Regions from separate parts of the Homo sapiens genome. Here region 1 is linked to region 2. The links come from fine-mapping of genetic effects on gene expression. A gene starts in region 2. The other region holds a variant in brackets. All regions are shown on one strand. Distances are between the middles of the regions. Region 1 overlaps ATXN7L1 (ataxin 7 like 1). Region 2 holds the start of ATXN7L1 (ataxin 7 like 1).

What was found.
Region 1: its variant is fine-mapped to the expression of ATXN7L1 in whole blood (INTERVAL, PIP above 0.99).

What each region holds. Positions count from the first base shown.
Region 1 is chr7:105,673,878-105,676,687 of GRCh38, reverse strand. All of the region lies in intron 3 of ATXN7L1 (ataxin 7 like 1), which reads left to right. Among named protein-coding and RNA genes, the nearest start is that of EFCAB10, 94 kb to the right of the region's middle. RefSeq lists enhancers at 355-404, 279-779. The variant TA/A (reference allele first, on the strand shown) is at 1,530.
Region 2 is chr7:105,875,012-105,877,821 of GRCh38, reverse strand. ATXN7L1 (ataxin 7 like 1) reads left to right here and starts at 1,223. Exons shown (of 12, transcript NM_020725.2): 1 at 1,223-1,444; 2 at 1,942-2,010. The coding sequence starts at 1,264. RefSeq lists a silencer at 971-1,180.

The DNA of each region.
Region 1 (2,810 bases), 200 kb after region 2:
TTGTATTTTTAGTAGAGACGGAGTTTTCCCATGTGGGCCAGGCTGGTCTTGAACTCCTGACCTCAAGTGGTCCACCCACCTCGGCCTCCCAAAGTGCCGGGATTACAGGTGTGAGCCACTATGCCCAGCCATTCTATCAGGTATTTTAAATATGGGGAATCCCAGCTCATGGATCTTCTCCCCAAGATCCTGGGGTCTGTGGCTCCCCCGTGCCCAGGTCCAGCTGTCTGCCATACCTGTCCCATCAGTGCTCTGGGGGCGATATCAGCTGTGTCATCCTAAGGTAGAATTCAACAGCTTATCTGCAAGCTGGTAGCCCCCAGTTTTCACCAAAGCTGTGGTGACTCCTGTGTTTAAACACATGTGACTTGTGCGGTGTGTGTTTGTGGTTTTGGAGGGGGCTACTCTGATGGAGAAGTTCAGTGCCATGCATGTGGAGTCCTTGTCAACCCCTCTGCTACCACTGGGCCCAGACAGTGGGGAGCAGATAGAGCCATAAAAGGCCTCATGTTATGAAGAGGATCGTGGTTCTGGCTCCAGGTGGAGTCCGGCAGACTCAGGTCCTTCGGGCAGCAGCTTGCCTTCTGAGGGCCGCGTCCGTTCTCCTCCACTCAGAGTGACAACTGTGGCAGCGAGCCAGGATCTGGAGAGTGCTGTCCCCTGAGCACAGGAAGCCCTCTGATGACAAAGGTCTAGCAGTGACAGCAACCTATTGTATCATCACTGTAATAACCCAGGGCTCATAGCCCAGTGTCTGGCACATGGTAGGTGCCAAGGAAATGCTAAGAAAAAAAAAAAAAAAAGAGTGAATGAATGAATGAAATAGCTTTCATTTTAACCCATATTTTTGTCTCCTTCCTGCATTTGTATTGGCACCTACTTTCTCTCTTCCACCTTTTCTGCTTAAGGATATGTTAGTGTTTTGTTGTTGTCTGTTTTTATCTTCTTGGATGAACTTAAACAGTTTTAAAAAAGACAGAGCCTATTAAGCAATGCATCTTATATCATTCTCTTTTTTCCTCATCATCATGTATTTATCAAGTGCTTTTTTTTTTCTTTTTTTTGAGATGGGGTCTCATTCTGTCACCAGGCTAGAGTGCAGTGGCGTGATCTCAGGTCACTGCAACCTCTGCCTCCCAGGTTCAAGCAATCCTCCCACCTCAACCTCCCGAGTAGCGGGGATTACAGGCATGCACCACCACGCCTGGCTAATTTTTCTGTGTTTTTAGTAGAGACGGGCTTTCACCATGTTGGCCAGGCTGGTCTCAAACTCCTGACCTCAAGTGATCCACCCACCTCGGCCTCCCAAAGTGCTGGGATTACAGGAGTGAACCACCGCACCCAGCCTCAAATATTTTTCTTTAAGTAGTGATTAGTCTCTACATACTATTTGTGCCATTTTGAATTTCCTTGTGAATGTGAGTGTACTATTTTGCATACATTTTCTTAGGTTGAGATAACTCTCTTACCTGTCTCCTACCAATTGCTTTATTATGGATTATTCAGGTTGCTTGTAGTATTTTTTTTTT[TA/A]ACTGTAGTAAACAGTGCTGAGAATATCTTTGAACTTTTTTTTTCCCTTTGGGATATTTCCTGGAGGCCTATTTTCCAAACTTACATTACCAGATTACCAGATGAAAGGCTATGGATGCTTTTTAGTTCCTGTTATTATCACCAGGTTGCTCTCCAGAAAAATGTAATCCCTTGAAAGTACCGCTGGCAAGGTGTACATGTGCTTGTCTCCCCACAGATTCTATTTCTGTAGTTTTTCCTTTTAGCTAGTCTAGGTGTCTTGTGAGGGCATCCCTGGGGGCTGATGGAAGTATTTCAGGGCCCTGGAAAGCCCCTGGGACTCCCCAGATCCTGCCCAATAGTGGTGATGCCAGAAATTTGCACCTTAGTATAAATGACAAATAGAAGAGGAGGAGGAAGGGGGAATGCCACCACAGGGGAAAAGTTAAAAAGGATCCTAAGTTACATGACTTCACAGCAGCTCTGGAATGGGAAATGCCCTTGTAAGAATCATCCCAGTTGCATTTCTAAAGCGTGGAGGGAAAGGAACATCCCAGGCAGGGTGGCATGGTAGAAAGGGCATTGGCTCTGGGGCCAGGCAAGCCTGGGCTTTCCTGCCAGCTGCTGAGGTCTGCGTGACCTTGGTCTTGTTTCACAATCTTGCTAAGCTTTAATTTCCCCCATCTGATATCTAAGAAGAAAAAAAAATAATAGTAATTTCCCCATCTATAACAAGGCAACTAACGGTATCATACCACATGGTAGGGTTATTGGGTAGATGAGCTGGTGAGTGAAAAGCAGCTTACACAGTGCCTGATATATAGTAGGTACTCAAGAAAGCCTGCTTTCCCTCCTAACTGAATGAATGTGCATGGGGTGACCAGATGACGAAGAAACCATCCCAGAGCCTAGGGATTTGGGAACTGAGCTGGTGTTGGTGTGAACAGTGTAGACCACAGGCCCACACTCATATTTGTCAAAAGAACTTAGTGCCCAAGATAGGTCATGTTGCCCAGCAGTGGGTAGGAGGTGAAGAGGGGTAAAGAAGACCTAGCATAACCTTTGCTTAAGGAACGCCTCCTCGGCTCCTCAGCCCTGCCATCTTTTAAAGAGGTACTGCAGTCTGAGAAGGGAATGGGCACTCCAGAAAAGCTCACAAGCACTCCTGGCATGGAAACTGCTTGGCACAGCTCTGCCTGCATTCGCAGCCTGTCCTATCACCTGACTTTCCTGTGTCTTCATTTCCTCCTCTGCTGAGCAAGGCTGATTCAATATCCCCCCTTACACCATGGCAGTAAGTT
Region 2 (2,810 bases):
GACAACTTGGGAAACAGCAGTGGTGAGAGCTAAAAGGGTGCTGGCGAAAGAGAAAAAAAAATATGTCGCTTGTGGGGTGAGGGCGGTGTCCATATAGTTTAGATAATTCTAGTAAACAAAAGGATTTGTTAAAAAGAAGTAACAGAAGACTTTTTAAAGCCTTCTTTAAAGGGTGAAAATCTCAACTAAAGCACCCAACGTCCAAAATCCAGAGGAAATCTAGCGCTCCCTTTCTAGCTGGCTAGAGCAGTTAAGCCTGAAGTGAATTCTCCCAGGAATCAGATTCCTGGCCAAAGGTTGCCTGCGCAAACCCGGGCCACCCTCGTCTCACGGCAGGGAGCGCTGGAAACGGCTCAGGGGCTAGGCCCGTTAGCGTCGTCTTCCAAGAGCCGTAAATTCGCCCTCCCGCTCTGCTGACCCTGGAGCAAAGTCCATGCAGTGGTTCTCTGAGAGCCGGAGATACGCACCGCGCGGGGAACCCGGGGGTCCGGGGGCCCTAACTTTTGAGTTTTGCACGCCCCGCAGCCTGAGATGGGAAGGTAGCTCGTAGCGCTCCAAACTCACCTGCGTTTCAGAACGACATCTACCCACTGGTTTCAGCTCCTAGAGCAACAACTGCAGAATCTCCATGGTCCAAAGTCCTCCAGGAAAGAGAAGAAAGGGGTGACGGGGGTGAGGGCTGGGAGGCGAGGTCACCAGGGTCCCTTCCCTGGCTCGGGTGGGGGTGGGGGGCGCAACCCCTCACGGCTCCTCCCCACCAAGCCGTCGGGACCCCAGCGGGGGCGCCTCGCGTTGGGCGACAGGGACGCGGGGAGAGAGCGACAAGCTGGAAGCAAGGGCTGCCTGCAAAACTTTCGGTCCTCCAGCGGCAACTCTGCGGGAAAGACCACCCTTCCTTCGGCCCCGCGTCGGGCCTATCCCCGTGTGCCCCGACCCCTGCGCCCCAGGCTTGGGCGGCGCCGCTGCATCCCGGCTGCCGGGCGCGCTGCAGCCTTCGCTCTCCCGCACGCGGCGCTCGCCCGTCCGCGCTGCCCCTCCCCGGCAGGCGGGCGGCCCCGGCGGGCGGGCGGGCGCGGACTGCAGGTGCCTCTCTGCTGCCCCTGGCGGCCGCGGGCGCGCGAGCCCCACCGAGCCGGCTCCGGGAGCCCGAGCGCCCGCCCCTCCTCCGCTCCCTCTCCCCTCCTCCTCCGCCGCCCTCCTCCCATCCCGCCCTTCCTCCCTCCCTCCCCCTTTCAGAACACTCAATGTCGGAACGTTCCGAAGATGACGTCGGAGCGTTCTCGAATCCCGTGTCTCTCGGCTGCTGCTGCCGAAGGAACAGGGAAAAAGCAACAAGAAGGAAGAGCAATGGCGACACTGGATCGCAAAGTGCCCAGTCCGGAGGCGTTTCTGGGCAAACCCTGGTCCTCCTGGATCGACGCCGCCAAATTACACTGCTCCGACAGTAAGAACCCCACCACCTCCTCCTCCTTTTATTATCCTGTAACCTTTCCATTCACCTAGAGCCACTGGGAAAAAGTGTGTGTGTGAGAGAGAGAGTGGCCCCCGGTGTCCTCCATGCTTCTCCCTCTCTCTCTAAATAAATACACACAGAGACAGATCATCAATGCACAGGGAGAGGCCCGGCTGCCAGGGCTGTCTGTCTGTCTGTGCCCGGCTCCCCGTGGCAGCCCGCGGGGTGGGCTCGCAGCCCCACGGTGTTGTCCGTTTAAAAGGCTACTTTGTTGCTGCTTGCATAGTTTTTTGGGTACCTATCTGGGCCAGGTAGATGGAAACCCAGACTTGGGAGAAAATGTTGCATTGTCAATTTTTGAAAGAATTTCATATACAGTATTTATATCGATCTGTTTGCAAATAAACACTCTCCCTCCCCCCTTGACTTTGGCTTTTTTCCCCCCTTTTTTCCTTATTTTCTGTTTTCCTTTTCTTTTTCATCTGCAGATGTAGATTTAGAAGAGGCTGGAAAAGAGGGTGGAAAAAGCAGGGAGGTTATGAGGCTTAATAAAGAAGGTAAGTGGAGCTACTGGCATTTTAGTGTTAGCATGTGTGGCAGAATCTTCACAGGATTTCGAATATAATGTGAATTGTTCTGCTGGGTACAGAGTGACTAAGGCTTGTCAAAAATTGAGCACGCCCAGGTGACTACTGCTTCATGTTAACTTCTTTCAAAGTATAAATACAACTGGGGGGGGGGTAAAGGGGGGTGAGACTGTTGAAGGCAGAAGTTTACTGCACTTCAGTTGGACTCCACGTTTGAACCTTCTGATGCATATCTGCCATTCTCCTTGGGAGCATCATTGCCAAATGGTGGGGCGTTAAAATTTCTGAAATGAAGAGTGGAGTTCCCTTCACAAGCATCCCAGCCTTTCTCGTGGGTGAATGCACAACAGCTTAATGAACCCCACATGGTCAGTCATTCCAGCAGCTACTTCTCCACTCACCACTGAAAACCATTGTACATGGCAAACCTTTGCAGCAAGTTACATTTGGCCCACTTTGCATTTGGTCACAGATTGTTATGTGGCAAGCAGGGTTAGGAGCATCTGTATGTGCAGCCCCTCAGCAGTCATCATCTCTCTTTTCCCAGCATGGAAATACGGTACCTGAAATGGGACACACTGAGTAGATAGGTCATCCCAGACCAAGATATGCAAGAGAAGCCACAACCTGCTGCAATTGGGCATCAAACACATATGGTCGTCATAAATAAATCATATCCTGTTCTCATTTGCAAGCCTGCCGTATGTAACTCTGGCCTATGGGCTTCAAATGGAGCAACTCCGGGGGCCACTTGCTGCTAAGCAAATAGG